Linked DNA regions of Homo sapiens. Changing the gene in region 1 together with any one later gene gives a genetic interaction. Each region holds a gene or a part of one and is shown on either strand. Other genes may lie near its edges. The genes, in order: PRPF18 and CACTIN.

Region 1 (3,514 bases):
ATCTAGAGATGATTTAAAGTATACAGGAGGATGTGCATAGATTATATGCAAATACTATGTCATTTTCTATCAGGGACTTGAGCATCCAGATTTTGGTATCTGCAGGGTCCTGGAACCAATCCCTGAGGATATTAAGGGACAAATGACATACTTCTATGAATGGAGCCATAATCTAACAGATTCCACATCAGAGAAACAAGACTGTGAAGTATTTAAAGTCCTTGGTGGATTCAAGGATTGCCCACATTATGAGATTTAGGAATTAGGGGTGTGGAGGGAGGTTATCTTTCAACTGATTCACAAGAAGGGCTTTTGCACACGTCATTCACTTGGCTCCTTTTTGTTGTTGTTGTTCCCTGTGTAATCAGGTATTTGCTTTGGGATAAAGACCATTCCATCACATAGTCCAGCTTATCCTGCTGTGAATTCTAATCATGTGTATGCAGAACTTTGATCGGTAGCCATGGAAATATAGATGATAGCACTAATTTGGCATCTTAAGGTTCCTGAAGGAATAGGTGAGAAGAGGGGCAAAGTCAGGCAAGAGAACACCCTGATGAAATACAAATAGCTTCACTCAGCAGCAGAGCATGGCAAGAATTGTTATGCGCAAGCGGAAGGCAAACTGATGGTTTGCCTTGGAGGTGGTTTTCCCCATGTCAGAAGAATTGGAATCTTAGGTGTGTGCTCCTTACAGAAGACGTGTGTGATGCCTATTTATACTCACTAAGCAGATTCTATGATTTAAAAACATATACTAGTGTTCTCCCTGAAATCTTAGCTGCCAAGGGTTGTGAAACTCAATTGTTTTAGTCATAAGTAGTTACCACAGAGCGGTATGATACATTTTTGTAAAAAAGATTTGAGAGTGCATGGCAGAGATAGGTGTGTAATCTCAGGACAGAATATCGTTATTTTCCAGATGGAAACAAATCTTTTCAATTAGACCCCTCAGGATTTCAGTTTCAAACTGCTTATGGATGCTTAAGCCAGTAAAACAATGAGCTGCTTAGCTTAGCTTATGGCAAATGGCTTAAAAACTTGTGGTATTTTTAATTGGCTTTTTATTTATATAAAGGCAATACCCTTATCTAACAAATGTTTATTCAGTGCCTACTATACATACTGTTCTAGGCTCTGGAAATACAGTAGCGAAGAAGCCAGAAAAAATCCCACCCTCCTGAGATCGAATTGTGGTAAGGGAAGACAGGCAAGAAACAAAATAAATTCATAAAAAAAAATTTTCAACGATGCTAAGTGCTTTGGAGAAAATAAAGCAGGCAAGTGGGGTAAGTGGACGTGTGGGGCAACCTGAAGGACTTTGGCTTGGACTCTGTGAACTAGGAAGCCCCTGCAGGGTTCTGAACAACAGAGCAACACGATCTGACTGTATGTGAACTGGATCAGTCTGGGGAATGCTGCTAAGAAACTGGAGAGGAGCAATAAGAGAAACTCAGGGACCAGAGAGAAGACACTGGAATAATTCAGATGAGAGGTGGTGGCTGGACCCAGTGGCAGCAAGGAAGGTGGTGAGAAGGGATCGGGCTCCAGACATACTTTGAATATAGAACCATCAAGCTTTGACATGGATAGGATATGGGTTGTGACAGGAAGAAAAAAGCCAAGGATAATTCCGGGTTTTCTGTGTACACTGTTTGAGGGGAAAAAAAAAAAATCACACGATTCTTGTATCAAATAATAGCAGTCCTCTACCTCACTCTTTCCAAATCCTAATTCCAGCTCTCCACAGGCAACCCTTTTCAAACGTTTTAAGTGTTTCCTCTGGCATTTATTGCCACATTTCTAAATACTATACTGACAGTGCTTGGTTTTTCCACCAGATATTAGTGATATCTCCTGACTTCCTACTATGAAGCAGAGGATATCTCACTCTTACACCACTGTCCACTGGCCCCACATATGCACGCACACGCCTCAAAAGCACTTTCTCCCACATCCTCCCCAAACCACATTTTTAGTGAAATCAATATTCAGGGTTTTCCTTATAAAGGCTACACAAATATCGTTCAAAGCAAACCCACATAACATATTATGATGATGACCTCTCATAAGTTTTTTTCCCCTTTTTGTTTTGTTTTTCTAATCCATTCTCCAACATGAGACTACCCTCACATGCCCAAACATCACTCAGGATCTGATCAGACATGCCAGGGAATATAAGCTCTTCCATTTCTTCCTGGAGTCCTTCAACCATCTACTCTAACCTGGACCCACTTGTACTGCTACCATCCTGGAGCATGACATCCCTGCAGCTCCAGCCTGGGGATTCCTCTCGCCTTGCTCTGTGGTGGATCTCAGCTCTTGGATCTTTTTCTTTGGATGGAGGACATCCTCAGGTAGAGTCAAGACTGCCCACATTCCAATCCCAATTCTACCACTGACTAGCCATGTGACCTTGAGAACTCACTTCTCTACGCCTCTTCCCCACTTACAAAACAGGGAAATGTGAGTGTCCATCTCATATTGTGGCTGTAAAGTACTGAAGGGAAGCACAGTAAGCACTACTTAAGTGTCAGCTATGACGATAATGACTACAGAGAATGTGTGCATGGGAGATGTCATTAGCCTATATTTACCCTTCACTTGATGGTTCAGAAAGGAAGAGAATTCTGAGTTGGACAATATTTCCCTAGCTATTGCAAAGGTACTGCTCTACTGTCTTCTACCTTCTAGTGCTATCAGTGAGAAGTATGACAGTATTTTAATTCCTGCACCTTTGTAAGCGACCTTTTCTCTGAAGTCTTTGAAATCTTCTCTTTAGCTTTGGCCTTCCAACATGCATTCTTTTGTGCCTTGATGTGAACTCTTCCTATTCATTTGCGCTGTATTAAGTGAATTCTTTTCATTCTACAAACTCACGTCCTTCAGGTCTGGGACGTTTTCTTACATTAATTCTTTATTTCCTATCTTCCCTTTTCTGTTGTAATGGCTATAAACGTTATAGATTGACTCTTATTTTCTTACCTTTCCTGCTTTTCATATTTCAACTTTATCTTCTAACCCACTAATGTAATTACTAAATTTTTGCTGATTTAAATTTTTGCTAATTTTTAAGAGTTCATTTTGATTCTCAAACTTTTTTATAGCCTAATGTTCTTATTTCATGGCTACAACGTTACCTAAGAATTTTTTTGTTTGTTTTGTTTTCAGACCCGTCTGTCACCCAGGCTGGAGTGCAGTGGCACGATCCTAGCTCACTGCAGCCTCAAACTCCTGGGCTCAAGCAATCCTCCTACCTCAGCCTCCTGAATAGGCATGCACCACCACGTCCAGCTAAATTTTTTATTTTTTGTAGAGAAGGGATCTATTTTGCCCAGGCTGGTCTAGAACTCCCGGTCTCAAGCACCCCTCCCACCTCAGCCTCCTAAAGTGGTGGGATTACAGGCATGAGCCACCACGCTTGGCCTCTAAGGATATTAATTATCATTCTCAATGAAATTTTTTTCTGTTCTCTATAATTCTGTTTCTATGAAGGTCTTTTTTTCTGTGTGTT
Region 2 (3,640 bases), on another chromosome or scaffold:
TGGCAGTGTTGTGTGTGCTGCAATGCGATTTGGGATTCTGGAGTAGGCTGGTCAGGGTGGGCCAGGGTCTGCGGTGTGGAGAGCGGACGCTGATCAGATGCACTTCCCTGGCCAGTTCCCAAGCCCTGTGCCACAGACTTCCGGGATCCTGTTAGAGGTGGGGGCTGGGAGGTGACCAGTGCCCCAGGGGAGTGCAGGATCTGCCTTGCACCTCTGCCTACTGCAGTGAGGACATTTGGGGAGGCTCATCCTGGGCACTGAAGCACATTGGGCAGCATCCCTGGCCTCCACTCACTCCACGCCAGGAGCAGCCCCAAGGTGGGACCACCACGAATGCCCCCAGGCATGGCCAAGCGCTGCCCCCATGAGAGCCTGGGCCCAGGCCAGCAGCTGTGTCCACCCTTGTACCCTCCCTCCTGTCGTCTGGGAAATGGACTGTCACCCCCACTGTGGGAGGCAAGGCAGAGGGGTGGGGGGCAAAGACAGATCCGGGCACTAACACAGCTCCCAAGGGACCACCGGGCCCCAGTTGGGTGCCGTGTTGTTTCCCAGGCTCTTCCCTTGGGACAAATGCGCTGTGTCACAAATGCCAGCAGCAACTAGGGCAGCGGGTGTGGGGCGTCGGACACGTTACACTCTCTGCATTTCTGCAAACCTAAGATTATTCTAAAATACAACGTTTATTAAAAAAACATGCGATCTTGCCAATAGGCCAATTCCATGAGAACAAAAGATTTTTTTTCCCACCTACAAGTCTTTTTAGAGAAACAAACGGAACTATTTCCAGATGAGGCGGGGTGTCTGGGAGGGGCTGTGGGTGGTCTGGGGCTGGTGACTGGTGAGGTTGGGTGGCCCTCTGGGGGTCCGGGAGGCACTTTCCGTTTTGCTTCTGTTGGAGATGTTCCCGTCGGATGCTGAAGAACAAGCCTGCCGGCTGGGCCACTCCGACCTGGGCTGTGGCACCCGTGTGGCCCTCGGCCCTCCTGGCCTGAGAAAGGGGAGTGAGAAGGAGCCACTGTCCTGATATGGGCAAAACTCGGGGTCACTGGTCTCATGCTCCAAGGCCCCGTGAGCAGGCCAGGTGGGGGGATCCCTGGGGGAAGCCCCTCACCCTTCTCCAACCCCCAGCCTTCGGGGAGCCCCTGCCCTCCAGGCCCTGTGCTCAGAGGTGGGGGGAGGACGGCTCAGTGACTTTTGGTTCCCACGACCTTGACAGAGACAGGGACCTCGACGCATCCTCCATACCCGCTGCGGGGAAATGGACCCCACCAGCCAGCACGGGGTGAGTTGGGGGCCAGTCCCTGCAGAGTGTGGGTGTCCACAGAGGGTCTCTTCTGCAGTGGCGGATCGGGCGCCAGCAGGGTCCCGGCCTCAGTGCTGCCTGTGCGGGCGAGGGTGGCCTGTGGGCAGGGCTGGAGCTGCCCCACAGCCGCGGGCTCTGCCTCACGCCCAGTGGGTGCCCCGTGATGTGGCAGGGCTGGCCTTGAGTTTCCTGCTTCTCACGAGCCTGGCACCGCCAAGCCCAGGCCCCTCTGGCCCATCTCCACAACACCCTGTGTGGCCGCCACTTGGGGCAGGCCCTGTGGGCCCCACCCAGCCTGGCTGAGGGGCGGTGGAGAGTGTCCGCCTGGACGGTGAGGTCAGCTGGCGGCTGCTGGCCACCCTCGTGCTCGAAAGATGCCCCTAGCGCCCCCTCCGTTGCATCAGGACCCTAGGCCAGCCTGTCCCAGTGTCTCCTCAGCTCACCATGGCAGGCTCAATGGTGACCCCCCTTTTATATAGGAGGAAACTGAGGCCTGGCGAAAGAAAGATGCGGCCTGAGGTGGGACGTGAACCCGCGGCCCTGCAGCCCAGACAGCGGCCCCGGAGTGACCACCAGCTTCACCGAAGCCCCTTTACTGTGCCCCCGAGGACACCTGCCTGCCGTTCCCCAGGGCCGTCACCGCCGATAGCGGTAGCGCTTGAAGTGAAACCACAGCTGGAAGATGCCGTTGGCAAACTGGCAGCGGAAGCCGTGGCGGTGCGAGTATTCCCACTCGCGGTTGACGATCTTGAAAGCGATGTCCTCGTAGGGCGGCCCCGCGTGGAAGCGCAGGATGGCGAAATCCTTGTTGTCGGCGCAGGCCTCCAGGAAGTACTCGGGCGTGGAGCGCTTGTCGATGAGGTCGGGGTAGAAGATGTTGAACTTGTATCCCTGCACGATCTTGGGCGGTGGGTTGTCAAAGTCGTAGTGCGTCTGGTTGTACTTGTTCCACTCGAAGCCCGTGTGCACGCGGTTGAAGAAGCGCGGCTTGCGTGGCCGGTACTTGTCGGCCCACAGGTAGGCCTTGCCGGTGAGTGGCATCTCCACGCTGAACTGCGCCTCGTCCTGGCCCATGCCCTCCTTGGCCCGCCGGAAGAAGATGTCCTCGGCGCTCTCGCTGGCGTCTCCTGCGGGCGGGACGGCGTTCACCCGGGCCTCGGCCTCCCCCTGGGTCCTGGCCTCCCTCCTAGCCTCTCTGGCAGGGGCGGCCGCTGGTGCCTCCCGCAAAAGGAAAACAGGCTGGGGCGAGCTAAGGCACATGGGGAGGGGACAGGGCCTGGGCGACCCGGAGACCCACACCATCCGCCCCGAGCCCCGGACCTTGGTCTTCATGTCTATCGTCCTCCTGGGTGGGGACCAAGCGCAGCGCGCTTCCCCGCCGAGCGACAGGAGAACCTGGTGGTTAGGGCCTGGCTGCGGGATCCAGCCCCACGCATGACCCCCGAGGGGGTCCTGGCCCAGGGGTTTTCTGAAGCCAGTATTTTCTCCTCTGTCTTAGGACGGAGGCTGCCCAGGGAGTGCTCGGACAGCGGCCGGTAAAAGCTTCCACCACCTGTGGCCCCAAGGCCAGTGGGCCAGCAAGCCCAGGATGAATGAAGGAACGCCCCAGTGCGCGTGCAGGTGACGGAATGCACGCTCAGAGACCCGGGGGAGAAGCAGCAAGCAGCTCCCCACTGACGCCAGCGGCTTCGGCCGGGAAATGAGGCTGGAGAAGCCCCGCCCCCAGCTCGCCCCACTGGCCCCACCCCCTGGCCTCCAGCCCCGCCCTTACCCGTGACCTGGAGCTGCTGGCGCGAGAGCTGCAGGCGCTGCAGGTCCTCATCCGGTTCCAGCACGTGCGCGTCCAGTGGCAGCTCGTGCGCCGTGAGCAGCCGCGGGCTGTACCTGCCGGCGTCGTAGTCGTCCAGGCTCTGCTGGATCAGGTCCTCCTCCATGAGCACCGCCTCGCCCTCGCCCTCGCCCTCACCGTCCCCGTCGCCGTCGCCCTCTGTCGGGGTCGCGCCGTCCACCTCGGCCTCCGCGGGGCCGCCCTCCGAGGAGGGCCCGGGCGGGGTGGGCGCCGCGTCCTCAGGCTCCAGGCTGGGAGGAGAGAGCGTTGGAGGCGCGGAGGCTGCCCACGGCCCCTCCATCCTGCTCCGCGTCTGCATCGGCGTCCCCGGGGTGCCGGCCGGGCCTACCTGCGGCTGGGGGACTGGGGCTCCTGCTTGAGGATGGGGAACAGCGGCTCGCTCTCCACGCCCTGCTCCTGCTTCAGTTTGTACAGCTTCTGCCGCAGCACGTCCTGGTGGCGCTCACGCAGCCTGGGACGCAGAGCCGGGGTCACCCGCATGGAGGCGA

Evidence for each region.
Region 2: changes in PRPF18 (region 1) and CACTIN together harm fitness more than expected from each alone (negative genetic interaction), as found in Homo sapiens cells (one large-scale study listed by BioGRID).

Annotation. Positions count from the first base shown.
Region 1 is NC_000010.11:13,624,965-13,628,478, reverse strand, and holds part of PRPF18 (pre-mRNA-splicing factor 18), read right to left. Parts: intron 1-3,514.
Region 2 is NC_000019.10:3,609,984-3,613,623, forward strand, and holds the end of CACTIN (splicing factor Cactin), read right to left. Parts: exon of another isoform or gene 3,604-3,640; coding exon 3,481-3,603; exon of another isoform or gene 3,383-3,480; coding exon 3,075-3,382; exon of another isoform or gene 2,802-3,074; intron 2,431-2,801; coding exon 1,940-2,430; 3' UTR 662-1,939; downstream 1-661. UniProt on the Homo sapiens protein: Plays a role in pre-mRNA splicing by facilitating excision of a subset of introns. Required for the splicing of CDCA5/Sororin, a regulator of sister chromatid cohesion. Involved in the regulation of innate immune response.